2 linked regions of the Homo sapiens genome follow. The protein of the gene in region 1 interacts with the protein of each later gene in a pairwise test. Each region holds a gene or a part of one and is shown on either strand. Other genes may lie near its edges.

Region 1 (15,836 bases):
TCTGGTTGCCCTGACTTCAGTTATGCTACTGAAACAGTTATTGTGTCTGCAATTGGTGGGTTCTTGAACTCACTGACTTCAAGAATGAAAACGTGGACCCTCACGGTGAGTGTTACAGTTCTTAAAGATGGTGTGTCGGGAGTTTGTTCCTTCTGATGTTCGGACGTGTTTGGAGTTTCTTCCTTCTGGTGGGTTCGTGATCTCCCTGGCTTCAGGAGTGAAGCTGCAGACCTTGGCGGTGAGTGTTACAGCTCTCAAGGCGGTGCGTCTGGAGTTGTTCATTCCTCCCAGTGGGTTCGTGGTCTTGCTGGCCTCAAGAGTGAAGCTGCAGACCTTCGCCATGAGTGTCACAGCTCACAAAGACAGTGCGGACCCAAACAGTTAGCACCAGCAAGAGTTACTGCAGAGAGCAAAACAACTAAGCTGGAGACCTGAGCGACTTGCCGCAGCTGGCTCTTGGCAGCCTGCTTTTATTCTCTTATCTGGCCCCACCCACATCCTGCTGAGATTGGTCCATTTTACAGAGAGCTGATTGGTCCGTTTTGACAGGGTGCAGATTGGTGCATTTACAATCCCTGAGCTAGACACAAAAGTTCTCCAAGTCCCCCACTAGATTAGCCAGACACAGAGCACTGATTGATGCATTTACAAAGCCTGAGCTAGATACAGACTGCTGATTGGTGCATTCACAAACCTTGAGCTAGACACAGGGTGCTGATTGGTGCATTTACAATCCTCCAGCTAGACATAAAAGTTCTCCAAGTCCCACCTCCCCCCACCAACTCAGGAGGTCAGCCAGCTTCGCCTGGTGGATCCCGTGCCAGGGCAGCGGGCGGAGCTGTTCAACCAGTCCAGCGCTGCGTGCCTGCGGGCTCCTCAGCCCTTGGGCGGTAGATGGGACCGGGTGCTGCGGAGCAGGGGGCGGCACTCGTTGGGGAGGCTAGGGCTGCGCAGGAGCCCATGGCGGGGTGGGGGAAGGCTCGGGCATGGTGGGCTGCAGGTCCTGAGCCCTGTCCTGCAGGGAAGCAGCTGCGGCCCTGTGAGGATCCGAGTGCAGTGCCGGTGGGCCGGTACTGCTGGGGGACCCGGCCCACCCTCTGCAGCTGCTGGCCCAGGTGCTAAGCCGCTCACTGCCCGGGGCCAGTGTTTCCGGTCTGCCGCTCCAAGTGCAGGGCCCACAGATCCCATGCCCTCCTGGAACTCACGCTGGCCTGCGACCGCCACGCGCAGCCCCGGTTCCAGCCTGCTCCTCTCCCTCCACACCTCCCTGCAAGCAGAGGGAGCCGGCTCTAGCCTTGGCCAGCCCAGAGAGGGGCTCCCACAGTGCAGCGGCAGGCTGAAGGGCTCCTCAAGCACTGCCGAGGCCGAGGAGGTGCTGACAGCCAGCCCTCTGTGAGGGCTGCCAGTAGGTCGTCACCTCTCATTATGACTTTTGTTAATTCAGATGTTTAGATCAGTTCAGATGTTATGTTGGGAAGCATTTTACAACAATCACATATTTTTCTCTTTGCATTTCTTCTTGAAATACTTAGAACTGTAGTTTATAATGAATATAAACACTGGAAAATGCCACAACATTGTTGGGTAGTATTCTAATAACATAACATTCAGACCTTCTAGCAAGGTTAATAGAACTACTCAGCATCACTTAAACAAATTGCCAGTTTGAGGACTTATTTTGCTTCTAATTTCTTAGAACATGACTCATAGAATTTTATTTATTATGCATATCATGTCATCAATATTTATTTTACTTGCAAGAATGACTCATTGTTACCAGAAGATGGGGCTGTGAACACCATATGCAACATGGCCACCATCATGAGCCAGACTGATTAGATCTTCACTACTTCTTTCCTGCCTGCTCCTTTTTCTGCTCACTTTAGACTCCATTTGTCAGTGTTTCCTGCCATTGCTTTTCACTTGTTAGCGGGTTTGTTTGAATCAGTGTATGTTGACTGCTAAACTTCAATTCCTGCAGAACTGTAATACTTTCTTTTGACTTCCTGATTTCTTGGCTGATTTTTCTTGGGATTCAAAGAAACATAAACAGTTAAGCTTTGAACAACTCAGCAATAAGGGGATCGACCCCTAAGCAGTCAACTACTGTTGACTGCAAGCCATGCCAAGAACACAAACAGTTGAGTAACACATATTTTGTATATGTATTATGTACTGTCTTCTTGAAATAAAGTAAGCTAGAGAAAAGAAAATGTCATTAAGAAAACCATAAGGAAAATACATTTATAGTAATTATTATTATTGTACTTATTTACCAATACTGTAAGTTTATTTCTTTTGCTTACAAGATGAATCCCTGCCTGAAATGGCAGCAACCACAGCTGCAGACCTCAATCTACAGTACTTATTAAGCAATTAAACTTTTCCTTGTAATGACTATTCTCTGCTTCTTGGGAGCATTTACAGCATCGCTAGTGGCACTTTGTATAGGTACCACGGTGTTATTCAAGGTTGACGGCAGTGCACTAAACACGATGAAAAATACAGGAACCATGAGTGATCACTTTTTACTATGATACACAATTTACTGGAGAGACAACTGCTCTTGTGGAGATGATTAACATCACGAAGTGTTTTAAGTGGATACATTCAAAACACTTGGGCTCACTGCAATAGCAATGAGAGGTGCCATGAAATTAGTACAGCACTACAGTATGTATGAGTTATATGCAGTTATGATTTAATGCTGCATCGTTATGTTTGTTTCAATTTCTCTCAACTGTTAATGGTGCCACGGTCTGTGTTTATGTGTGTATGTTTTGATAAATTTTAACTTTTTATAATACATTTGTGGGCCGGGAGCAGTGGCTCACACCTATAATCCAGCACGAGGCAGGTGGATCACCTGAGGTCAGGAGTTCAAGACCAGCCTGACCAACATGGTGAAACCCCATCTCTACTAAAAATACAAAAATTAGCTGTGCATGGTGGCGGGCACCTGTAATCCCAGCTACTCGGGAGGCTGAGGCAGGAGAATCACTTGAACCTGGGAGGCAGAGGTTGCAGTGAGCCAAGATCGCTTCATTGCACTCCAGCCTGGGCAACAAGAGTGAGGCTCTGTCTCAAAAAAAAAGTTATATTTGTGTATATTTTAGGGTATTAAATGATAAAAGATGAGTATCTACATATTTTATGCATTATGACATACTTTTCTTAATTTTTCAATATTTCTAGGCTATACAGTTTATCTGTGTTTTTTAAATTGTTGCAAATATCCAAAACTTTTTCCAATATATGTAGAAAAAAACCCGTGTATAAATGTATGCACAGAGTTCAAACTTGTGTTGTTCCAGGGTCAACTGTACTATCTTTCCCAAAAAATGGGTGAAGGGAAACACTAATGGTAAAATATCTGTCTCCTCAGTGTCACCAGATCCTGAGAGTTTTGGGATTTCGATAGACTCTTCAAGAAATAAAAGCTTCTCAAGTGTCAATGTCCTTCAGGCAGAGACCTCCAGGAACACATCTGTAGTTAACCAAGTTGGAATTATTTCTGGTTGCAGTGAGGAAGAACACACACCTTGAGGAAGAATGGGCTGCCTCGGTAAAAGGGTGTTAAGAAAGAACCTATTATACGATTTGGGCTTTGTGGTGATTTGGGAGAGCATCTAAGGAAGCGGGAATATGCTCTCAATTGGATGCAGTCAGAAAGCTGGGGGAAGTCTATGATTGTGTCAGCAGGGAAACGTATCTGAGTCACACGACTTCAAAATAGTAATACCAGTGGTGAATCCCTTGGGGTCTGCAGCACCCTCAATTCTGGCCTCCTCCGAATAAAGTATTCAACTGATGGACATAGGCAGAAGGAGAGACCCAGGCAAGTTTTAGAGCAGCAGTAAAAGTTTATTAAAAAGCTTTAGAGCAGGAATAAAAAGAAGGAAAGTATGCTTGGAAGAAAGCCAAACAGGCAACTTGAAAGGCAAGTACACAGCTTGATATTTTGACTCAGGGTTTGTTTTTGTTTGTCTTGAGACAGATTCTTGCTCTGTTGCCTAGGCTGGAGTGTAGTAGCGCGATCTTGGCTTGCACCCTCCACCTCCCAGGTTCAAGCAATTCTTGTGCCTCAGCCTCCTGAGTAGTTAATTCTGTTTTTTTTGTTTTTTTTGTTTTGTTTTGTTTTGTTTTGTATTTTTAGTAGAGACAGGGTTTCACCATGTTGGCCAGGCTGGTCTCAAACTCCTGACCTCAGATGATCCGCCCGTCTTGGCCCTGCAAAGTGCTGGGATTACAGGCATGAGCCACTGTGTGCCTGGCCTTGGGGTTTTATATATTGGCTTACTTCTGCGGTCTTGCATTACTTCTCCCCGATTCTTCCCTTGGGGTGGGCTGTCCGCATGCACATGCTTGAGCCCACTCGCCCCACTCCTGAGATCTTATCGGGAAGCTGCTGATCACTAGTTTCAGGTGTTTTCTATCAGGAGCCTGCTGTTCCCTGGTGCCAGCTGTGATCAATTATTATTTTAGTGAGACAGTTAACAACCGCTTGACCATCACCTGATGGTTGCCCGACATTCCTGATATGTGCGTGTGGTGCGGAGCCCTCTCCTGCCCTGCTCATTCCTGACTAGCTACCTACTGTAACAAGATTGAGATCTTGGGCATCTCAGTCTTATCTATAGAGAAGTGGCTAGCATGAGAATAAAGCTGCAATTTTAAAGTAGTAGTAGTTATTTGTTTGGGCCAAGAAAAAGGTGTTGTATTTTGTAGTCAGTAAAGTGAGCTTTTTGTCTGTGCTTAGAAAAGCTTAATGAAGTGGTTTGCTTTGTATCATTGTATCATGATTTCAGAGTGACCTTGTCTGCAGTTGCTATTTTGTGAGATTATTTCTCTTCAATAGGAGAATAACAAGGCCTAGCTGTGAGTGTCAGGCCAGCTTCTCAATGTTAAGGACTCTTTCCTTTTTCTTTCTTACATTTTAGTTTTATAATACATTTTTCATTCAAATATACATACAGAAAAGTACATAAATTATAAATGAATTTTCATAAAGTGAACACATCAGTGTACTAATGTTCGGCTTAAGAAACAACATATCCAACTTCCAGAAGTCCCCTTCATGCACCCTTCAGATCACTAACCCTGAGGTTACCCACTATCCTGAGTCTAACACCACAGATTAGTTTTGCCTGATTTTGAATTTTTTATGACTAGAAACATGTAATATGCACTTTTTTGAGTATAGGCTTATACTCAACATTATGTTTGAGATTCATTCATGTTATTCTGTGTCATTGTAATTAGTTCATTCTCACTGATGAATAGTATTCCATCATGTAAGCACACCAGTTTATCTCCATTCTAGTGTTGATGGACATTCAGGAGCTTCCAGTTTGGAGCAATTAGGAATTAGTTCATAGTGCTGCTATGAATGTTCTCGTACATGTTTTTGGTGAATGCCATGTATATATTCCCGCTGGGGAGGAGTCGAATTGTTGTATATTTATGTTCAGCTTTAGTAGATAGTGCCAAACATTTTTCCACAGTGATTGTACCAATTTATGCTCACACCAGCAGTGTAAAAGAATTCTGGTTGCTCTCTTTCCCATGTTATGTAAACTCTTCCAGAATACAGAAAAAGATGAAAACTTCTAAATGCATTCTACAAGGATTCTATTACCTTGATACAAAATTGAGAAAGTATAGAAAAGGAAAACTATAGGTTAATGACATCTTTAAATGGAACTGTAAAGATAATGAAAATATTAGCAAACTGAACCTACAAATTTTTTAAAAAAACCAAACCAGGACCAGAATGGGTTTATTCCAAGAACAGAAGTAATGCTCAAAACTAGGAGGTTTTGAAATAATGCATACTAATTTATCAATGTTAGCTATTATATAATTCATTAAATCCCAAATTTATTTTTGTTAATATAATTCATTAAAATAGAAACTGTTAATATAATTCCTTTCGAAGACTAGAGGAGAAAAGCAGATAATCTCCAAAGATGCCAAAAAAGCCGTTGATAATATTCAATTCTCACTTTAATAAAAATTCTAGAAACAAAGATATAAAAGTCCATGTTATATCTCCTTCAGTCTACTTGTCGGGTTCATCATCCATTATTACCCCACATGAAAGCTAACTTCTTTTTCCTTGCTCCTCCATTTGCTAGCTGTGTAGCCTTTGACAAGTTACTTAACCACTCTGTGCTGATTTCCTATGTGTAGTAAAATAAGAGTACCTACCTTATGTTGTAATGATCAAGTCCTCAATACATTATTCTTAATCACTTTTTAATTGCAAGAATTTGGTCATTAAACATCCCTTTGACTGGATTGCGAGCACCTTGACAGCAGGGACTAACAGTGGAACTTTCTGGAGACTTAAGGAATGTCTGTTGAATCCTGATGCAAGCTTTCTCACCTTCCTGTGTTCTCTCATTGCTTCCTCATCCTGTCCAGCCGTCCGTCCACCCGTCGCAAGCCTAACCCCAGTCAATAACCACTGTTTACAACACTTTCTTTGTACCCTTCTTATAGTGCTTATTACATTGTTTTGAATACTAAATGAATATATAGTGCGTCGTTGTGTTTAACATTTAGGACATAACCACTCATAATGTTACAGTTAAAAAAATAGTTTTGTGCATTCCTCTAGGGCCGAACTGTGCCGTACTTCTGGTTTCACTGTACAGTGTCTACAAAGCACAGTGTCAAAGACAGAGCTCGGGATGAGAACTGGGCTAAGGCGCGCCCCGAACTCCCCAAACCCTATTATTCAGGGCCCGGAGAGGTGCGGGCTCCGAAGGTGTGGAGAGCGAAACACGCAGAGCAGTGATTCCACTCATCAGTCACACAGTAAGACGGGACAGCCCCATCTCGCAGTTTTTCATTATTCAACACAGAGCCCAACGCGCACGCAACAGATCCGCGCGCAGGGCTGTTTGGAGGCGCTTGGGGCGCACAATCTGGGGCAGGCGGAACCTTAGTCCTCAGCCTCGCGTTTCCCGCGACTCCGCTCTCACCGCTACACTACCACACAAACGGCCTCCTTCCCCCACCCCCGGGGGCCCATCCCGGTGGCGGGCTCCGGAGCTCGGGACTGCTAATTTCAGCGAAACGATTAAAAGACGCCCCTACAGCTGACGGCACTTTCTCTCCTCCGGCAGGGAAGGACGTCCAGCGTAGCGTCGCCCGCGCTTCCCCGCCGGCGCAGAGCAGGCCTCACAGAATCGCACGCCGCTGGCACGCACGCCGCCCCGCCCCCACGGCCCAGCGCCAGCCGCGCCCCGCGCTCGCACGCATCCCGGCCTCACTGCCCCTCGACTCCTGTTCCGTTGGAGGGGCCTGAGGCGAGCCTGAGCGCGCTGTTGGCCGGAGGGAAGCCGGAGGAGACCGGGTCGACTGGGCAGAGCGGCAGAGGGTCGAGGAGCCTGCTCTGCACGCCCAGGGAGTAGAAGTGGGCAGGGAGCAGGGTCACGTGAGGGAGCGCGCCGCGACTGAGCTTGGGTCCGACTGGAGCTCAGGCTCGCGACCCAGACTGGTGGGCCAGGCCTCCAAGCCGGCCTTACACCCAATCCAAGGAGGACAGACCGGACACAGAGGGACGGAGCGAGCAAGGAGACATGGCTTCATCATTCCTGCCCGCGGGGGCCATCACCGGCGACAGCGGTGGAGAGCTGAGCTCAGGGGACGACTCCGGGGAGGTGGAGTTCCCCCATAGCCCTGAGATCGAGGAGACCAGTTGCCTGGCCGAGCTGTTTGAGAAGGCTGCCGCGCACCTGCAAGGCCTGATTCAGGTGGCCAGCAGGGAGCAGCTCTTGTACCTGTATGCCAGGTACAAACAGGTAAAGTAGCAGGGAGAGGGTGGATGGGGGAGAAAGACACGGAGCCTTCTTCCTCAACAACTGATAGCAAGCATGTATGGTTAATAGCTAGGTGTAATGAAGCTTGTGTATGTGTATTTTGTTTTGTTTTTTTTTTTTTGACCATCTGCTGGGGATGAGCATCATCCTGAACGTGGAAAAGATGTTTGCTTTCTTAGGAGTGATGTTTATTTAGCTGGACACTGGACATTGTTTTTGTGTTTTTTTCTCTGACTTATTCAGTGATCTTGCATTTTACCAGCCCAAGAACCTTTACAAAATGAGGATAAAATAAGATATATCATTCATTTACTCTTTCCCAGAGGGCCACATGGAAGTAAATACGGTAAAGTTAATAAAACTATATAGAGATCCAAAAAGATAATAGGATTGTAATAATGTGATGCAGGGCTGGGCGTGGTTGCTCACGGCTGTAATCCCAGCACTTTGGGAGGCCGAGGCGGGAGGATCACCTGAGGTCGGGAGTTGGAGACCAGCCTGACCAACATGGAGAAACCCCGTCTCTACTAAGTTAGCCGAGCGTGGTGGCGCATGCCTGTAATCCCAGCTACTCGGGAGGCTGAGGAGGCGGAGGTTGCGGTGAGCGAAGATTGTGCGCCATTGCACTCCAGCCTGGGCAACAAGAGCGAAGAAACTCCACCTCAAATAATAATAATAATAATAATGTGATGCAATGCAAAATGCAGTATTACAACTTTTATTGTGATTTTTATAAAATCCTAAATATCTTTGATTTATGTTTTCGTTGAGTATGTCTTCCTTTCTGTTTGATACAATCTAAAAATTTTAGAGCTATGAACACCAGAGGAAATAATGCCCTTCTTTTACAGTAAAGGAAACTGAAGGCCATAGAGAGTAGGCACCTTTCCTAGGGTCATACAAATACATCAGTCAGAACTGGATTGTAGCTCCTGACTCAGTCTAAGGCTGTGAACTTTACCTGGAAATAGGGAGGTGTATAGACACGTTTAATTTATAATTCAGGGTGACATTGGTTGGTACCAGAAGGAAAATAATTGCTTTATCATAAGCAACATATATTTGTTCAGCAGCTTTTATGTGCAAGACACTTGGGTATAATGCCTACAGAGAATGCAGAGAAGCAAAAACATCATGACACTTTGCAGAGAAGCAAAAACATCATGACACTCACTTTTTTTTTTTTTTTTTTTTTTTACAGAGGGTCTGGGTTTCACCACATTTCCCAGGCTGGTCTTGAACTCCTGAGCTCAGACGATCCACCTGCCCAAAGTGCTGGGATTACAGGCATGAGCCACTGCACCTGGCTGACACTTTTTTTTTTTTTTTTTTGAGATGGAGTTTTGCTCCTGTTGCCCAGGCTGGAGTGCAGTGGCTGGATCTTAGCTCACTGCAACCTCTACCTCCCCGGTTCAAGCGATTGTCCTGTCCCAGCCTCCCGAGTAGCTGGGATTACAGGTGCCTGCCGCCATGCCCAACTAATTTCTTGTATTTTTAGAAGAGACGGGGTTTCATCATGTTCGCCAGGCTGGTCTTGAACTCCTGACCTTAGGTGATCTGCCTGCCTTGGCCTCCCAAAGTGCTGGGATTACAGGTGTGAGCCACCACGCCCCGCCAACATTTGCTTTAAGAGACTTAAAGTACTTGAGGAGTCTAGGTTTGAACATACCTGAAAAATTGCTGACAAGAGTTAAATAACAGTTCAGGAAAATTACAGCTCTTTGAAACACTAGAGGAAAGGAAATTCTGGATAATAGCCTATTTTGTTTTATTAAAAATGTGTAAACTTTTTTTCTTTTTGCCTCTTGACATAGTTACGTATTTTCCCCTGTATTTGTTAAAGGAAAAATAAGTTGGGGGAGAGGTCCTGCTGTGTTCTTTTTTTTTTTTTTTTAACTAAAAAAGTTTTTTTAGAGACAGGATCTTGTTTCGTTGCTCAGGCTGGAGGGCAGTTACACACTCATAGCTCACTGCAGCCTTGAAGCTTCTGGCTTCAAGCGATCCTCCTGCTTACGCCTCCTGAAGTACTGTTATTACAGACATGATCCCGCATGCCCAGCCCCACTGTGTTCTTAAACTGGATGTACTGAGTAAAAATGAACCTTGTTTTGAAGGTTGATGGTCATTATTATGAATATCAGTTAATGTGACCTGAGAGAGAAAGCTGTAGGAACAAATGGTATAAATTATAGTGTCGAATGAAAATTACCTCCAAATTGGCCTTGGAATTAGCTTTCTTGGAAAAGTTGTAGATATCTGTTTTCTCTTTGGTCATTTGTTATACTTTGTCCTAATAACATTAGAGTGAAACTTTTGATTATTTAACAAATATTTACTGAGAATCATATTTTAGGACCTGTAATATGTCTGATGATTCTCTGGGCAGTATGAGACTAATTTTCCCCAAATTCCCTAGAAAATATTATTTTTCGTTCTAGGACATATCTTTGTTTATTGATATTGGTGTCATTATTAAAATACTATATTTCTAAGTCATCAGTGAACTGTAGTCACCTATCGACTTGGGAACCATTTTGTCTCAGGTATACTCACTTCATCCAGATAATATGAAGGAGGGATGTCCCTCATCCTTTCAAGAACTTGACTTTATGGTGTTTAGAGATATTCTGTATCTGAAAATAAAATTCTGCATTGTTAGAGAATAATATGCTTACTTATATATGACACTGGGCCGCAGTTTTCATCAATCTCCTAAATATTTTTGACAAAATTGTGAGATAGTGTTAAGAATAGCATCTTTGATAGAATAATAAAGTTGGAAGTCCAATATCATTTCTGCATATTGGATCAAAATTTATAAAATAACGTTTTGTATTCAGAATAGCACCCTATTTTGTAGGCTGGATGAGGTTGTTGGCAGGAAGATAATAAAAATAAGCTGAAATATGAACCTTATTTTCTCAGGGAGAACTCTAAACTTAGCATCATAGCTTTATTAGTCTCAGATAAGCCTATGGCTTCAGAATAATCTTTTAATAAAGTTTTAACAAAATCGAATGAACAATTTTTTGGTCCTTCTTTACATCAGCCTACACTCTCCCTCCTAAAGATAGCTAATTGACAGCTGTGAAAACTGGAGAGTAATGAAAATTTGTGAATTCCTGTTGACTTCATAAGATACTGTTTAATAATACTTTTTTTTTTTTTTTTGAGACAGTTTTGCTCTGTCATCCAGGCTGGAATGCAGTGGCGTAATCTGGGCTCACTACAACCTCCGCCTCCTAGGTTCAAGCTATTCTCTTGCCTCAGCTTCCCGAGTAGCTGTGATTACAGGTGTCTGCCACCGCACCTGATTGATTTTTGTATTTTTAGTAGAGATGGGGTTTCACCATGTTGGCCATGGTTGACCAGGCTGGTCTCCTGATCTCAGGTGATCCACCTGCCTTGGCCTCCCAAAGTGCTGGGATTACAGGCATGAGCCACCGTGCCTTAATACTACTTTATTAAATATTAACCCTTGAGTCAAGTCTTACATTTTGTGTGATGAGATGGGAAGTACACACAAAGTACTTCTGCTGCATACTGAATTATGTTAACTATTTTGAGGAAAAGCACTTGTGTAATTTCTGAGTCGCAAAATGAACTATATTCTTTTCCAATTTTACTTAACAGAACAACTCACAGATAATTATACCTACTCAAATTTGGGTATTTGGCAGGTAGTTTCTTAAAAATGAACGAAATAAGCCTGTCACTTCAAGGAAAACAACTCAAAGTGTTTGTTGCCAGTAATAACATTTGAACCTTCAAGTGAAAATGAGAAATTTGGAAAATCTATATCTGCCACCATGAGCTTGACAGCTTCCCAGTACTTAAAAACTTTTTTTGATGAGATAAGTGGTGACAGTCATGAATGTGAACGTTTGCTGTTATATCATGAAATGTGTCAACATTTGAAAAGTCTGTGTAACTCAGTAAACCATATTTTCTAAATATTTCATGGAATGATGTTACAAATTATGTGTTGGTAAAAGATGCCTTTCAAAGTGCAAGTCAGACCAATGGATTTCAGTGTTAACAGTATGAAAAATTCATTGATATGAGTTCAGATTCCTCGTTGCAACTGACCTTAAACTACCATCTGTTAGGTTTTGGCATAGTATCAAAGAAGAATATCTACAATTATCTGAAAATGCTGCTAAAATACTTCTCTCTCTTTCTAACAACATATCTGCGTGAAGCCGAATTTTCTTCATATACTTCAACCAAAACAACATATTGCAGTAGACTGGATGCAGCATTAGATATGCAAATGCAACTGGCTTCTACTAAGCGAGACATTAAAAAAATTAAAAAATGTAAAACAGTGCTACTTTTCTCACTAATTTTTTTTAGAATATGTAGTTATTTTGCATGAAATGTTATTTATGTTAACATCTAATGGGTTTATTATTTTTAAATGAATTAATACACATTTTTTAAATGTCCCAGTTTTAATTTCTAATGTGGTAAATATCGATAGATATAACCCATATAAATGATGGCTCTTTAAGATCCTTAATTTCTGAGAGTATAAAGGGATTACAAGACTAAAAAAATTGAAAACTGCTGCCCTAAGTTCCTTTTTCATGGTCAGAGGTGGCTTACCATCACCACATGTATATCCTATCCAGAGCAAAGGGAAAGGGGAAGACAAGCTCCTTTTCTTTTTAAGGAAGGTATTTGTATCACTTTTCCACACATCCAGTCCCCAGAACCTAGGCAGAAGTTGGATGGCCATGTATAATGTTTAGCCGGATGATCATGTGTCCAGCTGAGACTTCTGTTACTATAGGAGAAATGGAGAACTATTGGCATTTGTTTCTGCCACTGGATAGTGTCTGGATAAAAAACAAAAATAGTTATAATTGCTATTTTTATGTCTTAAAGTTTGTATAATTTATCTCATTTATTATTTCTAACAGTCTGGTAGTTCATGTGATTTTAGAGAGTCCAGAATTGAAGCCCAGACTCTATTTAGCATTTAAGACAGAATGATGTAGTAAAGGGATATTGAGCTTTGGAGTCAAACACTCTTTGATTTAAATCCGGACTACTAATTCAGGATATACTAATGTGTGAACTGAGACAACCCTCCTGAGCTTCTCTCTTCATTTATAAAATGAGTTTGTGATGGCATACCTAGCAGGATTTTTTTTTTGGCCCATTTGAGATAAAATATGTGAAGTGTTTGGTCTATCGTGATTGTTCAAGAAATGTGGCTCCTTCTTTTTCACCCTTTCTTCTCTCTATTCCATCATAACAGGGCTGCTTCTATGTAAGTATACATTTTAATAACAGCATAGGGCCATGCAATTAATCGCTAAGCAAATGATAGAGGTGGTAATTGTTATGAATTCAGAGGTAGATGAGATCATTGTAGACTGAAAGGGTTCTTAGAATCTGAAATTTGAGTAGAACTGGAAGGTCGTGCAGCATCTTGAAAAGCTGAGGAAAGAAGAAAAGGCATTTCAGGTGAGTGGAGTAACAAGCAAAACCCTGAACTAGGAATACCTAAGGCAGTCAGTAGATCATTCTGGTTAGATGAAGGCATCAGTTAGAGTAATGGGAAACAGTGGGAAAATCCCTGAGAAGTAGATAGGTTCTGTGGATGAGTTAAGAACAGTTACAGGCTCTATTCTAATAGAAAGATGAGACTTTACACAAAACTTTCTAAACACATGGTAGAAAAAGTGAAAAGTACCATAAAAGATATATAGAGTAAATGCTCTAAGAGTTCATAAGGAAGGAAGATGACTTCTGGCAGTGGGAATCAGGGCCTGTATAGTGAATTCTGCACTTGTGTGAATTTCATTTATGCTTATTCTTAATGAAAATTTCACTGTGCAGTTTAACTACAAATGTCGGTTGAGGATTAAAATTAAGTATTGACCTCAAACAAAAGATGATAAGACTATTGTAGAAAAACGGAATTGTATTTTTGAGAACCCATGAAATTTTTTGCATGGCTTTTGGCATCCAAATTTATATTGATGAATTTCATAATAGGGTACTTTAAAAGTAGTACACTGTTTTCCCTGGAATTTTGGAGAGTTAAAATGCTAATAGCGTTATGAGAATCAGCATGAAGAAACAGTGTTATGAATTCTGATAAATTATGAATTCTAAACCTTATTAATTTCATATTAAAAATTCTTTTACTTTATACATGGTAATAAAGAGTATTTAATCTATATTGATAACTTGTCTTATATATAGTCTACTAACTTCGAAGTGCAACCGTTTATCACAGTTTTTCTGTATTACAGTATTAGATAATAGTTGTTTTATGCAGTAAGCCAAAGTAGGCTGTATGTAATGTTTGATTCTGTTTGATTGTTTTTGTTTGCTTTGGCAAAGAATGTTAAATTTTGCTATTCCATATAGATGCAAATATTTTCCAACCTATGGTTACTGAATATACATAATACATTTGAAAAGGAAAAGTTTCCCAGACATTTCTTTGAAAAATAAGTTCTTGATTTTCCTTCCCTCATTTAGGTCAAAGTTGGAAATTGTAATACTCCTAAACCAAGCTTCTTTGATTTTGAAGGAAAGCAAAAATGGTAAGAAATTCCTGGAATCTTTAATGAGGTTGTTGGAAATGGCTTAGGTGTTTAGGAATTAGAAAGCAGTGAGCTGATTAAAGAATTATTTTTATATTAATCTCTCTCTCTGCTGTAGATTGTACTAATGACAGGCAATTGGGAGAGATTAAAGAAATCTACTTTTAGCTAAGTCTCCTGAAGGATTCTTATGCTAGCATGTTGGAATATAAGTGGTTCACAACAGACATACATGCCTTACATTTTAATACCATGAGAGCTATTGCTTGAGATTTTCCTTTCCTGTCATTCAACCCCTAATGGATCACCACTTCTCCCCTCTGGAGGGATTTTTGGAAGAAGGCCAGAATGATGGGAAGGGCAGAAGAGCAGGATAAATCCCCATTTTTCACCCATCTTCCTTGTCCCAGTTTTATCTCCCTGTCTCTTGCTACTTACTCTTGTGTTCCTTGCCCCACCCATGCCACAGTAAATAACTGCTTATAGTACTCTTGGGAAGAAGGGAAAAATTCAGTGAAAAGCCAAAACCAGATACTAACTTCTCTTTTTCTCTGAATATATAAAAAAAAGAGTATACTTTTGCAAACTTTTTTAACTTATAATTCAGAAGTTCCCCCTTGTCATTTATGAGACCTTATCTTCTCTTACCTTGTCTAAGTGAAAGAAGAGAAATTGCATACAACTGGGAATCTTAGTTATAGAAGGGAAGGCTTTGGAGCATCAGCCCTGGAATTAAGGTTAGAAGGTAGAGTTAGAAAAGAAAAAAGATAAAATATGGTTATAGAGAGAGGAAGTGATAAAATATGGGTTCTTACTTTACATTCTAGAGCAGTCCCACATAAAATCTGGTCCCCTGGATACATTTCCTGCCTGCCAACTGTTTGTTACCCAACTGTTAGGAGATACAGAGCTTGAACCCAGATATAAATCACGTATGTCACTAACCACGCTGTTTAGTTCAGCTGATTTTTTTTTGTATAGGACAGTCTCAGTGAAGGAAGCAGTGCATTGATTATATTCTTGCACAAGTTTTTTGGTTGATGATAACCAGCCAACATATTATTACTGTTCTAAAGAATACCTGATGTTAACGTTGACAGTGAGTTTTTTGTTATAATTTATGAAATTTTATACCTTTATTTTTTTCTGTGCTTTGCCTGTTTCTCCATTGTTTTTAGCAATTAAAAAATTTAGATTTTATAGCCACCATAATAATAGTTTATGCAAGAACATCAACGAATGATTAAATATTAGATGATAAAATATTGGGGAACTGTTAGAGAAAAACTATTGAGGAAAATTTTTGTTAAAATGCTAGGTGAAAAACTATTGGGGAGCAAAACCGTGGGTTACAGGCTGACCCACCATTTACTTTTTAATTATGAGAGAGAAACCTGACAGTTACTGCCGTTACCAAACCATGAATCTTATTGATGATGGG
Region 2 (15,971 bases), on another chromosome or scaffold:
AAAAAAAAAAAACTAGTTATCTAGTTATGCCTCACATATAGCAGGAAGTTGTTTTTGTTTTTTTTTTGTTTGGTTTGTTTGTTTGTTTGTTGAGACAGAGTTTCGCTCTATTGCCCAGGCTGGGGTGCAGTGGCAGGATCTTGGCTCACTGCAGCCTCTGCCTCCCAGGTTCAAGCGATTCTCCTGCCACAGCTTCCCGAGTAGCTGGGACTAGAGGTGTGCGCCACCACATCCAGCTAATTTGTTTTGCTTTTGAGATGGAGTTTTGCTCTTGTTGCCCAGGCTGGAGTGCAGTGGCATGATCTCGGCTCACTGCAACCTCTACCTCCCGGGTTCAAGCGATTCTCCTGCCTCAGCCTCCCAAGTAGCTAGGATTACAGGCATGTACCACCACACTCGGCTAATTTTGTATTTTTAGTAGAGATGGGGTTTCACCACGTTGGCCGGGCTGGTCTGGAAATCCTGACCTAGGTGATCCACCCACCTCGGCCTCCCAAAGTGCTAGGATTACAGGCGTCAGCCACCATGCCCAGCACATCTGGCTAATTTTTGTATTTCTAGTAGAGATGGGGTTTGGCATGTTAGCCAGGCTGGTCTCAAACTCCTGACCTCAGGTGATCCACCCACCTCGGCCTCCCAAAGTGCTGGGATTATAGGCATGAGCCACGGTGCCTCACCAGCAGGAAGTTTTTAATTAACACCTACCCTGTCTCCCTTCCCTTTCCTTAAACTGTATCTCTATTCTCTACTTCCTTTAAGGTAGGAATCTTGCCTATCTACTACTACAATACCCAGTGCCCTGCACAGTAGGGATTCAGTATATTGAGGAATTAAGTAATTTAACATCTTTCTCAGATCACCTGAGTCCCTGAAAGCTTTCTTCCTGACTTCAACAGTCAAGGAGACCTACTGCCATCACCCAATAAAAAGGATTCCATCTTGTGTCCAAAAGGGCCATTTGGTACAAACACCCTGCCAGTATTTGAATCTCTTCCACATTATCTCTGCCATGTATACATGTACATGTCCCATGTTGGGGAACTCACTGCCACTCAAGACAGTTTTATTTATTTTTTTTTTTGAGACAGAGTCTGGCTCTGTTGCCTAGGCTGGAGTACAATGGCGTGATCTCAGCTCACTGCAACCTCCGCCTCCCGGGTTCAAGTGATTCTCCTGCCTCAGCTTCCCTAGTAGCTGGGATTACAGGTGCCTGCCACCATGCCAGGCTAATTTTTACATTTTTAGTAGAGATGGGGTTTCACCATGCTGGCCATGCTGGTCTCGAACTCCCAACCTCAGGCGATCTGCCTGCCTCAGCCTCCCAAAGTGCTGGGATTACAGGTGTGAGCCACCACACCTGGCTGACAGTTGTTATTTTTTCAAGTCCAGTCTTGGCAGTTAGAAAGTTCTTTCTTAGGCAGTATCTCTCCTAGTTTTAAACCGTGGGGCCATACAGAACAAATCTAATTCTATTTTATAGAGCCAGATTTAATGGCTCAATTCCCTTCCTTGATCAAACAATGTATAGCTAACCTAATCCTGTGGTTCTCACCCTTTTCCCTACTCCTGACACATCCAAGGGATACCCAGACTCCCACCAGTAATCATGGCTGGCCAAGACAGGGATAGGAACAGGCCTGGCCTGTCCCCCCAAATTATCTGGATCTTCCTGGGACACAGTGTTAGGAAACCGTCCAGATGACCCTACTTTTCTCAGATACTGCCTTACAGTATTATAACTATTCATGTACAAGTGAGAGCCTTGTCTTCCAAGGAGGTATCCTTGTGGTCCGATTTGCCAAAAGCAGCTGCACCTCTGCCCCAGGAAGATCCCATAGGAAAGGGTGAAGGGCTGCTACAGGGCCTTCAACCCAGGCACCTCCTCCATAATGAAACTTGGGCTTTGGAGTTTCCATGTGATGCCATCAAGGGCTTTTTCAGCTCAAATATATGTCTTTCATGATTCAGGATGGCAATAAGAAACTTTGAGCTGGCTGTAGCTACTTACACAATCTCATTTTATCCTGAGAGTGGCCTGCATCTCAGTCACCTCTGTGTCCTTAGCATTTAGCATGATGCCTGGAATACAGTTCTGCTTCTCATTTTGTTTGATGAACAACCCTGAGTCCATTAGAGATGACTCCTTTGGCTCCTGGTTTTAAATTTATTTTCTGTACGTTTATTTATTTATTTATTTATTTATTTATTTTTGAGACAGGGTCTCACTCTGTTACCCAGGTTAGTGCAGTGGCACGATCTTGGCTCACTGTGACCTCTGCCTCCCAGGCTCAAGTGATCCTCCCATCTCAGCCTCCCACTGAATAGCTGGAACCACAGGCACACACTCCTCACTTTCTAAGCTCCAGTCCTAAGTCATATCATTCTCATTGCCATACCTCAAAAGCACCCAAGTCTCAGGCACCTGGACTTTCTACCTAGAAGGTCCACCCCAGTTTGTTTACTGTCCTGATGAACATTCAGCTAAGCCACCATGTCCCCCCAGGATCTCCTGCCTCTGGACAGCCTGTGCTCCCCACTTTCTTAGGCACTGTGCTAGAACTGTTCTACCCCTGACTCTCCAGTTCCTGCCATAGAGGCTGACAAGTCATCAGTGTTCCCGAGGTTGGAATAAATGAATCACAATCTATCTCATGGCTTCGTAGGTCCACCAGAAGAAAGGTTATATGTGGCCGGGCACAGTGGCTCACACCTGTACTCCCAGCACTTTGGGAGGCCAAGGCAGGGGATCACCTGAGGTCAGGAGTTTGAGACTAGCCTGGCCAACATGGTGAAACCCCTTCTCTACTAAAAATACAAAAAATTAGCCAGGCATGGTGGCTCGCACCTGTAATCCCAGCTACTCAGGAGGCTGAGGCAGGAGAATCGCTTGAACTCAGGAGGCAGAGGTTGCAGTGAGGAGAGATTGCACCATTGCACTCCAGCCTAGGCAAAAAGAGCAAAGCTCCGTCTCAAAAAAAAAAAAAAAAGAAGGTTATCTCTGACATGCTGGAAGTACAGCAAAGGCCTTGATCTGTGATGGACATCATGAAGAAAACTTTTCTTTGGTTATCATACCAGTAATGCTGACTTCCTGGGAAGGGAAATACTAATTAAGTGGGTATTAATTCTGTCCTAGACACTTTTAGGGCTCTCTATGTAAGTCTTATTTTACAGATAATGACATCAAAGCTCAGAGGTTAAGTGACTTGCCTAAGGTCATTCATTAAGTCAGAGGCAGAGCCAGGATTTAGAACCCAGGGAGTCACACTCTGCCTGCACTCTTTTTTATATATATTTTTTTTTTCCCAAGACAGAGTCTTGCTCTGTCGCCCAGGTTGGAGTGCAATGGTGCGATCTCGGCTCACTGCAACCTCCACTTCCCGGGTTCAAGCAATTCTCCCTGCCTCAGCCTCCCGAGTAGCTGGGATTACAGGCGTCCACCACTGTGCCCAGCTAAATTTTGTATTTTTAGTAGAGACGGGGTTTCACCACGTTGGCCAGGCTGGTCTCAAACTCCTGACCTCAGGTGATCCGCCTGCCTTGGCCTCCCAAAGTGCTGGGATTATAGGCATGAGCCACCGTGCCTGGCCCTTTTTCCTTTGAGACAGAGCCTCGCTCTGTCACCCAGGCTGGAGTGCGGTGGCGTGATCTCCGCTCACTGCAAGCTCCGCCTCCCTGGTTTACACCGTTCTCCTGCCTCAGCCTACCAAGTAGCTGGGACTACAGACGCCCGCCACCACGTCTGGCTAATTTTTTGTATTTTCAGTAGAGACAGGGTTTCACCATGTTAGCCAGGATGGTCTCGATCCCCTGACCTCATGATCTGCCCGCCTTGGCCTCCCAAAGTACTGGGATTACAGGCGTGAGCCACTGCGCCTGGCCCTTTTTTCCTATTTATATAGAGACGGGGCCTTGCCATGTTGTCCGGGCTGGAGTGCAGTGGCATGATCCTGGGTTCCAGCGATCCTCCCACCTCAGCCTCCCAAGTAGCTAGAACCATAGGTGCATGCCACAATGCCACGCTAATTTTTGTATTTTTTTTAGAGACAGGGTCCTCTATGTTGCCCAGGCAGGTCTCACACTCCTGGGCTCAAGTGATCCACCCATCTCAGCCTCCCAAAGTGTTGGGATTACAGGCATGAGCCACCTCACCCAGCTATATTTCTGCATAACTCCATAAGGCAGAACCGGGCCAGCTTTTCACAAACCAAAATTGTTTCAAAGTGGAAAGCTCTCGGCTGGGCGCAGTGGCTCATGCCTGTAATCCCAGCACTTTGGGAGGCCGAGGCAGGCGGATTGCCTGAGCTCAGGAGTTGGAGACCAGCCTGGGCAACATGGTGAAACCCCGTCTCTACTAAAATACAAAAAATTAGCTGGGCATGGCGGTGTGTGCCTGTAATCCCAGCTACTCGGGAGGTTGAGGCAGGAGAACTGCTGGAATCCAGGAGGCAGAGGTTGCAGTGAGCCGAGATAGTGCCACTGCACTCCAGCCTGGGCAACAGAGTGCGACTCCATCTCAAAAAAAAAAAAAAAACAGTAATTCAGGCCAGGTGCAGTGTCTCACACCTGTAATCTCAGCACTTTGGGAGAGCGAGGTGGGCGGATCACCTGAGGTCAGGAGTTCGAGACCAGCCTGGCCAACGTGGTGAAACCCTGTCTCTACTAAAAGTACAAAAATTAGCTGGGCGTGGTGGCAGGCACCTGTAATCCCAGCTACTTGGGAGGCTGAGGCAGGAGAATCGCTTAAACCTGGAAGGCAGAGGTTGCAATGAGTCGAGATTGTGCCACTGCACTCCAACTTGGGTGACAGTGAGATTCCGTCTCAAAAAAAAAAAAAAAAAAAAAAAAGCCTGGGCGTGGTGGCTCACACCTGTAATTCCAGCACTTTGGGAGGCCAAGGCAGGTGGATTACCTGAGGTCAGGAGTTTAAGACCAGCCTGGCCAACGTGGTGAAACCCCATCTCTACTGTAAGTACAAAAATTAGCCAGGCATGGGGGTGCGCACCTGTAGTCCCAGCTACCGGGGAGGCTGAGGTGGCAGGATCACTTGAATCCAGGAGGCAGAGGTTGCAGCAAGCCGAGATTGCGCCATTGCACTCCAGCGTAGGCGACAGAGCGAGACAGTCTCAAAAATAATAATAAATAAAAATAACACACAAAATATCTTTTTATCTTTTATTTTATTATTGTAATCCCAAAGTGCTGGGATTACAGGCATGAGCCACCACGCCCAGCCTACTTTTTATTTTTTTTGAGACAGAGTCCCACTTTGTCACCCAGGCTGGAGTGCAGTGGCAGAATCTTGGCTTACTGCAACCTCCGCCTCCCAGGTTCAAAAGATTCTCGCGTCTCAGCCTCCCAAGTAGCTGGGATTATAGGCGCCCACCACTAAGCCCAGCTAATTTTTTTGTATTTTCAGTAGAGACGGGGTTTCGCCACGTTGGCCAGGCTGGTCTCGAACTCCTGACCTCAGGTGATCCACCCACCTCGGCTTCCCAAAGTGCTGGGATTACTGGCATAAGCCCCAGCGCCTGGCCTGGCTTTATTATTCTTCTTCTTACCTCTGACCCCCCCCTTCCCTGCAGCTGCAAATAGGGCAATCGCGTTGAACAGCAGTCTTAGACCCCGGAGAGTTGAGTGTGGTGACAGCTCTCAGACTGAGTGGGCATCTTTGACTGCCTTCCAAAGTCAAATATAAATGACTGAGGATTATCTGCTGCTTTGGATCATAATTACTTATGCTTATGCCATTGATATAAAAACAGAGTTGAGTTGGCCGGGCGCGGTGGCTCACGCCTGTAATCCCAGCACTTTGGGAGGCCGAGGCGGGCAGATCACGAGGTCAGGAGATCGAGCCCACCCTGGCTAACACGGTGAAACCCCGTCTCTACTAAAAATACAAAAAATTAGCCGGGTGAGGTGGCGGGCACCTGTAGTCCCAGCTACTTGGGAGGCTGAGGTAGGAGAATGGCGTGAACCCGGGAGGCAGAGCTTGCAGTGAGCCAAAATCGCGCCACTGCAATCCAGCCTGGGCGACAGAGCAAGAGAGCGAGACTCCGTCTCAGAAAAAAAAAAGAAAGAAAGAGTTGACTATATTTAGTTCTGTGTTTTATTTGTGTTTTCTTTCCCTGAGTCAGATGGGAACTGTTTCTTCCCGCCCTGCCATTCTTCCCATGTTGAGATCTTTCCCAAAGGCAAAGATCATTTCCCTTTTTGGCCATGGAGCACTCTGATGGTAAGAATTAGTCCTCTCATCACCCACCACACTCAACCCGAATAGGAAATTTCCAAGAATGGGAACCATGTCTTTGGGCACTTAGGCGAGATTACTCAATCAAAAGAGTGAGACTCAGGGACTGAAACATTCAATCAAGGTTAAAAACAGATTAAAATGTGGCAGTTACCTTTTTTCCCCTGATATAGAATACGCACTGGAGTCACAGTTACCTTTTAGTAACTGATTTCCTTGAGTGAATAGTGTATCAGAAAATGGGACTTTTATGGTGGCAAAGAATTCAGAGGGCCTGGGGCACACAGATCTGGATTTGTATACCGATTTGCCACTTAACCAGCTATGTGACTGTGCAATTTACCAACCTCTCAGGGCCACATTTTTTCATCTGTCAAAAAGGTCAATATGGCCAGGTACGGTGGCTCACACCTCTAATCCCAGCACTTTGGGAGGCCGAAATGGGCAGATCACGAGGTCAGGAGTTCGAGACCAGCCTGACCAACATGGTGAAACCCCGTCTCTACTAAAAATACAAAAATTAGCCAGGTGTGGTGGCGTGCGCCTTTAATCCCAGCTACTCAGGAGGCCGAGGCAAGAGAATCGCTTGAACCCAGGAGGCGAAGGTTGCAGTGAGCCGAGATCGCACCACTGCACTCCAGCCTGGGAGTCAGAGAGAGACTCCGTCTCAAAACAAAACAAAACAAAACAAAGGTTGAATAATAATAATAGGACCTATATTGTAGACTTGTTGAGAGGATTAAATGAGATAATGTACGAAATGCCTTACTACAGAGTCTGGCACTTATTAAAGAAAGAGTTGATGTGGGCTGGGTGCCGTGGCTCACGTCTGTAATCCCAGCACTTTGCGGGGTTGGGGTAGGAAGATCCTTAGAGGCCAGGAGTTCGAGACCAGCCTGGGCAACAAGGCGAGACCCTCGTCTCTACAAAAAATATATAAATTATCCGGGTGTGGTGGCTCATGCCTATAGTCCTAGGTACTTGGGAGGCTGAGGTGGGAGGATACCTTGATTGCAGTGAGCTGTGATCTTGAGCCATTGCGCTCCAGCCTGGGCGACAGAAGGCGGCCGTATTTAAAAAAGAAAAAAGAAAGAAAGAAAGAAAAGAAAAGAAAAAAAGGGTCGTTGTGGAAAATTCTTGTGGGGAATTAAAGGGACCACGTGTGCGCGAAAGAGCTTGGCGAAGATAAGTACCTGGAGGCCAAGATGAGGCGGCGAGCCCTGCCTCCCTAGCAGTGTGGTCTCCTGGCTTAGGGTCAGTGCTTCGCACAAAAAAATCCACTGCCTCTCATGAGACCTTGAACTGCCAATGACCGCAGGTTGCCCAGACTCCCGAGTGAGGAAGGCGGCCAGGAGTCAACTAGGCTTCTTGCGGAAAAGCCCACTCTAAGAAGGCCTGGGGCATTCCGGCTCCAGGCAGGTAGCACCCGCGGGCCTCAGGCCCTTTCACTTACCCGGGAAACGTAACGGTCCTTAACGGCAGCCAATAACGGCTCCCAGCGGCCCAGGCACTGGCAAGGGCAGGCTGAAATCAAACCTCGGATTTTGGAACCTCCACGCCTGAAACCCTAAACCAGCATCGAACTACAACTCCCATCATGCCAGGCGGCCGCCCGGTTCCCAAGGGTCGGTCCCACCAACCTTGCGCCCCTTCTTTCCTCAAAGCGTGGCCGAATGCCTAGGCTTCCGGGTATCAGTGGCCCCGCCTCTTAATCCGACCGGAGCCGTCCCTCGTGATTCCTGGGTATTGTAGTCAGTTTCCTGGGAAAGAGTCGCTCCTAGTGGCAGCTCGCTTCGCCAGAAAAACTACAAAACCCAGAATGCAGCGCAAATTCCCCTTGTCCAATAGGAACCCCCCATGTAGTGGGGCGCGGAGCCCTGCTCTCGCAACTCAAGATGGCGGACGAGAGTGAGACAGCAGTGAAGCCGCCGGCACCTCCGCTGCCGCAGATGATGGAAGGGAACGGGAACGGCCATGAGCACTGCAGCGATTGCGAGAATGAGGAGGACAACAGCTACAACCGGGGGTAACGAAATCCTCGGAGTCCAATTCCCGTCCAGCCTCCCACAACCTGGGTCTCTGGGGTGCGGGGAAGTCACCGGGAGCTTAGTCTAGCCCCACCCTCATGTTCTTATTGGCTAAGTCACTAGGATTCTGCCTGGCGATTGGTTATTGCCTTTGTCATTTACCAAGGGTGGGTGCTCTGGATATTAAGGGCCGGAGACGTTCAGTACTTTTATTATATAAAAGTTCTATGCAGTGTTCCACTCGTGTGCTTCAGGCCATTCCTGGGAAAAGAGCATGTTGGACGATGGTTTTCGATGGTACAACACAGGACAGTCTAGTAACAGTACAGTTCAAAGGGAACGTTACTTATAGACGTGTTGTTTGAACAACGTGACTAGCAATAAACGAATCATAAAACATTTCGCAGCAGTTCACCCTCAGTGAGGAAACTCATCAGACTATACAAACTGTATGTATAATTATATTGTAAAATATCACTACCAGAGAATCCCAAAATATAAACTCACCTTATAAACCTATGTAATTAACGGTATGGTAATGCTTTGATTTACATAGTTTCCATTGCTCCAAATAATCCATAAGTATCCTGAACGATATATTAATATAATTAAGTCTTCGAACATCTTTGCCTTGTTACCTTTGCAGAGCAGCCCCAGGCTTCAAGAAATGAGCGATGTTGTTTCTTGGAGAGTATTTGGAATCCTCGGGCTCCATACTGCCTATCCTGTACTTTAGGGTCTTGCCATTAGTTACTATTTGTTCCTAGGGATGAAGAAACACACCAGGCATTTGAATGTTGAATTCTTTTCCCAAATTAGTTTTTACTTCTGTAAGCCACAGCTTATTCATCTTTCTTCACATGGTTAGTGCCTGGCACTGGCACTCACGCTGTCTCTCCCCATCTTCCTGTCTATATTTGTAGATATATTTTTAAACTGAAAGTCGTGAGAGATTTTTGGGTGTATAACTTGCTGAGTCTGAGGTAGTCTGATTTTCGTAGCCAGCTTGTTATTCGCAGTATTGGTGGCAGTGCAGATATAAAGGTATAAAGACCAAGGACTGCGTAGAAGAGATGGTCCCACAAGATTATAGTACATATTTTTATTGTATCCTTTCTATGTTTAGGTATGCTTAGATACACAAATACTTACCATTGTATTATAGTTGCCTGCAGTACTCAGTAACATGCAGCAGCCTATTGCTCCTAGGCTACAAACCTGTATAGCATGTTACTGTAATGTACACCATATAGCCTAGGCATTTAGTAGGCTATACCATCTAGATTTGTGTAAGTACACCCTATAATGTTGGCAAGGCAAAAATCACCTAACCATGCATTTCCCAGCACATATGCCTGACGTTCAGTGAAGCATGACTGTATTTAAGTGGTTTATAATCTGCTTGTGGTAAATCTTAGGTTAAAAGATCTAGCTTTTATGTTCTTCAGCCGGCATTAAAAATCACAGGAAGGGCCGGGCATGGTGGCTCATGCCTGTAATCCCAGTACTTTGGGAGGCAGATCACGAGGTCAGGAGATCGAGACCATCCTGGCTAACACTGTGAAATCCCATCTCTACTAAAAATACAAAAAATTTAGCCGGGCGTGGTGGCGGGCGCCTGTAGTCCCAACTACTCGGGAGGCTAAGGCAGGAGAATGGCGTGAACCCAGGAGGCAGAGCTTGCAGTGAGCTGAGATCACGCCACTGCACTCCAGCCTGGGCGACAGAGCGAGACTCCGACTCAAAAAAAAAAAAAAAAAAAAAAAATCACAGGAAGAAAGTAGAGGAATAGGAAGCTTGCCAAATTTAGTTTTTATAAGACTGTTCTGTTGCTGTAACTCACAACAGATCTAATGTAATAAAAGTCTTCTTTTGAAGTTTGATATTCCTAAAAATGGAAGAGCTGAGAAAGAGGAAGTAGGAACAGGAAGAAGGGAAAGTGAAGCTCTCCTGAGTAGAGATCTGAATCACAGATGAGAGTTGGTGAATGTGAAAGTCATTCCAGAAGTGAAAGTGTGGCATTTTCTTTGCTCTTTTTGTAGTTGCTTTTATTTTTATCTTCTTAACTGTTGTCCTGACCAGTGTCCTTAGGTTTGTGCCCTATAATCTGTGAATCACTTTTCAAAACTGTGTGCCAGAAAGTTATTTTATTGGCCTGGCGTGGTAGCTCACACCTGTAATCCCAGCACTTTGGGAGGCCGAGGCAGGTGGATCACTTGAGGTCAGCAGTTCGAGAACAGCATGGCCAACATGGTGAAACCCCGTCTCCACTAAAAATACAAAATTTAGCTGGGCATGGTGGCGTACGCCTATAGTCCCAGCTACTCCGGAGACTGAGGCAGGAGAATCACTTGAACCTGGGAGGTGGAGGCTGCAGTGAGTTGAGATTGCACCACTGCACTCCAGCCTGGGCAATAGAGCAAAGCCCTGTCTCAGAAAAAAAAGTGGCACACAGTGGCTCATGCCTGTAATCCCATCACTCTGGGAGGCCGAGGCGGGTGGATCACGAGGTCAAGAGATTGAGACCATCCTGGCTAACATGGTGAAACCCTGTCTCTATTAAAAATAGAAAAATTAGCTGGGCATGGTGGTGCATACCTGTAGTCCCAGCTACTCGGGAGGCTGAGGCAGGAGAATCACTCGAACCCGGGAGGCGGAGGTTGCAGTGAGCTGAGATTGCGCCACTGCACACCAGCTTGGCAACGGAGCGAGACTCCATCTCAAAAAAATAAATAAATAAAATTATTTTATTTGTAGTAGAAGTAAGTGATAACCTTAAAAACTTTGACAGTTTGCAGTGGTGTCTCTGTGCATGGTTATGGTCTGGGTGAAAAAATTATGTTTATTAGCGTCCCAAATCTAAAGATCTGTGAAAATGAGTTTGGAGGTAGTAGGTGAAAAACCAAGGGCCTAGTCTGGAGGAGAGAGTCTAATTCTGGCACTAAGAATCTGGGGTAGAGTCAACATTTTTCCATGAACTTTGAGAGGAAATGGTTTTGGGGAGAAGCAGCAATGTGGGAAAATGCAGCACGGCACAGTAGAAAAGCATGGACTTTGGAATAATTTAAATCTGGTCTGAGGCCAGGCGCGGTGGCGCACATCTGTAATCCCAGCACTTTGGGAGGCTGAGGTGGGCAGATCGCTTGTGGTCAGGAGTTTGAGACCAGCCTGGCCAGCATAGTGAAACCTCATCTCTACTAAAAATACAAAAATTAGCTGGGCATGATGGCAGGCGCCTGTAATCCTAGCTACTTAGGAGGCTGAGGCAGGAGAATCACTTGAAAACAGGAGGCAGAGGTTGCACTGAGCTGAGATCTCTCCAGTGCACTCCAGCCTGGGCGACAGAGCAAGCCTCTGATCTCAAAATCTCATCTCAAAGCTTGGCTCTGACACTTAACAGTCCTGTGACCTTGGGAAAGGTACTTAACTCAGAGTTGTAGGGATTAATGAGATAACATCTGGAATGCACTCCTTTTCCTCCCTCCTCCTCTTTCTTCAGATCGTCCCTAACCTCCCAGCTTGCCCCTCTGCTCTTATCACATACTGTATTGTAGCTTTTATCGTAACAATAGTTATAATAACAATAAATATAACTACATGTTTGGTAATTTTTCTTAATGTGTCTGGTACCTGTCTCATCTGACAGTAAGGAGCATGTAAACAGGATTGTGTCTTCGAAATGCCTAGCACTTAGTGGGCATTAATGAGTATTTGCTGTATGAATGAATGGCAGATATTAAAGTGCCTAGCCCAGTATTAGTGGAGTTTCATCTCCCCTCACCAAGTGAGAGGATGTCAGATTTTTCTTACATACACATTTTCTCTCCCCAAATAATTCTCATTGTAAGCCTCACTACAGTTTTTATGAAATACCTACAGAGGCAGGGCATGGTGGCTCACACCTGTAATCCCAGCACTTTGGGAGGCTAAGGCGGGCGGGATCATGAGGTCAGGAGATCGAGACCATCCTGGCTAACACAGTGAAACCCCATCTCTAATAAAAATACAAAAAATTAGCCAGGTGTGGTGGCGCATGCCTGTAGTCCCAGCTACTCGGGAGGCTGAGGCAGGAGAATGGTGTGACCCTGTGAGGCGGAGCTTGCAGTGAGCCGAGATTGCGCCATTGCACTCCAGCCTGGGCGACAGAGCCAGACTCTGTCTCAAAAAAAAAAAAAAAAAAAAAGAAATACCTACAGAAACCAGGAAGCTCCAATTTGCTGTGGAGCTTTCCACTGTTGTGTGCTTTCCACTGTGTTTTGCTTCTTGAAATGTTTTTTGTCTTAATATTATTTAAAATGTTCTCAAAAATCATGTAAAAATTGACAGAGAAGTTTTCCTTTCAATGCTAGAGAGTCTAAAATGTGTAATATATAATAAAGGTTAATGATAGTTCGAGCTAACCCTTATTCTCCTGGGCCTTTTTTTTTTTTTAAAGAGACTGTGTCTCGCTATGTTGCTCAGACTAGTCTCAAACTCCTGGGTTCAAGTGATCCTCCTGCCTTAGCCTCCCAAAGTGCTGGGATTGTAAGCATGAGCCACCACACCCAGCCTCCTGCCCCTTTTTTTCAGGAACTAAAGTCATAGTACTCTATGCTAATAAAATGAGCTAAATTCATGTACTGGATTCTGTTGCCCGGGCTGGAGTGCTGTGGCGCGATCTTGGCTCACTGCAACCTCTGCCTCCCGGGTTCAAGAAATTCTCCTGCCTCAGCCTCCTGAGTAGCTGGGACTACAGGAGCACACTGCCACACCCGGCTAATTTTTCATATTTTAGTAGAGACGGGGTTTCACCGTTGTTGCCCAGGCTGGTCTTGAACTCCTGAGCTCAGGCAATCCACCTGCCTTGGCCTCCGAAAGTGCTAGGATTACAGGTGTGAGCCACCACGCCCGGCCAGTTGTATTAGTTACTTATGTCTCTTTGTATATGAATTTAGTTCTTGACTTTTCTGGTCTTGTGTTTCCTCCGTAATTAAATCAGCATAAACATTTGGTGAATATAAAACTTCATGTGGTTGTGTGTAGTGGCTCATGCCTGTAATCTCAGCACTTTGGGAGGCTGAGGCAGAAAAATCACTTGAGCTCAGGAGTTCGAGACCAGCCTGGGCAACATGGTGAGACCCCATCTCTATAAATAAAAACAAAAAAACCCAAACCCTTCATGTATACATATAGGTATACATGCATACATATGCAGTGTGTATGGGTGCGTCTCTTCAGTTTTTCTATTTAAAAATTTTTTAATTTAATTTTAAAATTATTGTTATTACTTTGGAAACAGGGCCTCGCTCTGTCGTCCAGGCTATAGTACAGTGGTGTGATCATGGCTTACTGCAGCCTTTGACCTGGGCTCAAGCGATCCTCCCACCTCAGCCTCCCAAGTAGCTAGGATTGTAGACATGCACCATCATCCCTGGCTAATTTTCTTTTTAAAAAGTTTCTGTAGAGATGGGGTCTCACTATTTAGCCCAGGCTGGTCTCAAACTGCTGGCCTCAAGTGATGCTGCCACCTTGGCCTCCCAAACTGCTGGGATTGTGGGCATAAGCTCCTGCATCCAGCTGGTTTTGTTTGTTTTTTTACTGCACTCAATTTCCCCCAGTTACGTGCCTAGCGTAATTATCCTGAACAATTGAGAGGAGAGTCAGATAAGATAACCTTTATGCAGCATCCCCCTGTAGTTCGTGATTCATCTATATGGTTTAATTTGATTTTTTTTTTTTTTTAATGAGAGTCTTTCCAAGAAGTATTGCCAAAGAATAAATCTCATCAGTTGGCAGATTTTAATTTGGGGGTAATAAGTGAAGATTGTCTGAGTGTTTTGGAACAAAAAAGAACTTTTAGACTATTGTGTTCTAGGAATCTTTCGGAATTTATTTTGCAGTGTCTTCAGTGTCATTGAGATCCTGGTAAGCACGGGTCAAGAGCCCTCTGACAAGAGGTGTCTCATCTCCATCCTGCTCTCTTACTCCCTGGGACAGGTTAACATGGATTCTTTATAAGTTCTCCTCATTTCCTGGTTGTGAGATACTATCCCTTATGAAAACTTAGGAGGAGAGAAAAGTCTTTCTGAAAATAAATTCCATAAAGCTAGCCTTACTTGTTTTTGTTTTTTTCTTCAGCTTCTCCAAGAGTCGTTCTTTCCCTATTTATTTGATGGCTTATAGCTGCAGCTAGCTCTTGGAAATAAGAAATCTTTTTAGTTCCTTTTTAATTTCTCCCTTCAACTTTTGGTTTTTCAAAACTAGATCAAAGCAGAATGGAAAGAGAAACCTCATCACTGATATCAAATAAGTGTTCTAATTTTGTTTCCCAATTAAATGGCAATTAAAAAGAAACTAATCAAGAGCTGCTTCAAAGAGAAGAGACTGGAAAGCAGAAGAAATGGAAAGTAAATGAGAGCCTATTTCAGGGACTCGCTGCTCATGGCACAGCAGTTTTGCTGATTTTTCACATTGTTCAACTAATATGCTCACGCTAAAATTCCCCAGCTTTACTAAGTTGGCAGTTAACCCTTTCCCTATAGAGCCCATAGATTTATGAGCCATACATTTAGTAACTTCAGGAGGATGCTTCTTTAACTCTTTCTCTTCAGCTTTTTATCTGAAATCTCTACCCTTCAGGCCTCTCTTCCAATTCCTCAAAGAAGATGTCCTTGTGATTGTTACATTTAAGGGACAAAAATATGGTGTTCTCTATTGAGAGCGCCAAAAATACTAAACCGGAATTCCTCCATAGGCTCAGTATTTGCCTCAAAAATGTCCCAGCACTTTGAGAGGCTGAAGTGCGCAGATCACTTGAGGTCAGGAGTTCGAGACCAGCCGGGCCAACATGGCAAAACCCCATCTCTACTAAAAATACAAAAATTAGCTGGGCGTGGTGGCACACACCTGTAGTCCCAGCTACATGGGAGGCTGAGACAAGAGAATCACTTGAACCCGGGAGGCAGAGGTTGCAGTGAGCCCAGATGGCGCCATTGCACTTCAGTCTGGGCGACAGAGAGAGCCTCCATCTCAAAAAAATAAACAGAACAACAACTTTCTAGAGCTGCTCTCTTGAGAGACAACTGAGGAGTCACTATGGTTAAGTGTTTAGTAAATGTTACTATTATTACTACGTAGTGGGCATTGTGCTAAGCCCTTTACTTGGATTATATCCTCCATGATTTCACTTATGAAGACTTTAGCGATTTTTGTTTGTTTGTTTCTTTTTTTGAGTCTCACTCTGTCGCCCAGGCTGGAGTACAGTGGCACGATCTTAGCTCACTACAACCTCTGCCTTACAGGTTCAAGCAATTCTTGTGTCTTAACCTCCCAAATAGCTGGGATCACAGGTGTGCACCACCATTCCCGGCTAATTTCTGTATTTTTAATAGAGACACGGTTTTGCCATGTTGGTCAGGCTGGTCTCGAACTCCTGGCCTCAAGCAGTCCACCTGCCTTGGCCTCCCAAAGTGCTGGGATTATTACAGGCGTGAGCCACCATGCCTGGACTTTAGTTTTTTGTTTTTTTGGGTTTTTTTGAGACAGAGTCTCACTCTGTCGCCCAGGCTGGAGTGCAGTGGCGCGATCTCGGCTCACTGCAACCTCTGCCACCCAGGTTCAAGCGACTCTCCTGCGTCAGCCTCCTAAGTAGCTGGGATTACAGGTGCCTGCCACTGTGCCTAACTAACTTTTGTAGTTTTAGTAGAGACGGGGTT

What was found.
Region 2: the proteins of ACBD6 (region 1) and NMT1 interact in binary tests that used the Homo sapiens proteins (3 or more experiments, as listed by UniProt).

The regions. Positions count from the first base shown.
Region 1 is NC_000001.11:180,494,020-180,509,855, reverse strand, and holds the start of ACBD6 (acyl-CoA-binding domain-containing protein 6), read left to right. Parts: upstream 1-7,278; 5' UTR 7,279-7,589; coding exon 7,590-7,811; intron 7,812-14,330; coding exon 14,331-14,395; intron 14,396-15,836. UniProt on the Homo sapiens protein: Binds long-chain acyl-coenzyme A molecules with a strong preference for unsaturated C18:1-CoA, lower affinity for unsaturated C20:4-CoA, and very weak affinity for saturated C16:0-CoA. Does not bind fatty acids. Plays a role in protein N-myristoylation.
Region 2 is NC_000017.11:45,053,185-45,069,155, forward strand, and holds the start of NMT1 (glycylpeptide N-tetradecanoyltransferase 1), read left to right. Parts: upstream 1-8,132; 5' UTR 8,133-8,145; coding exon 8,146-8,276; intron 8,277-15,971.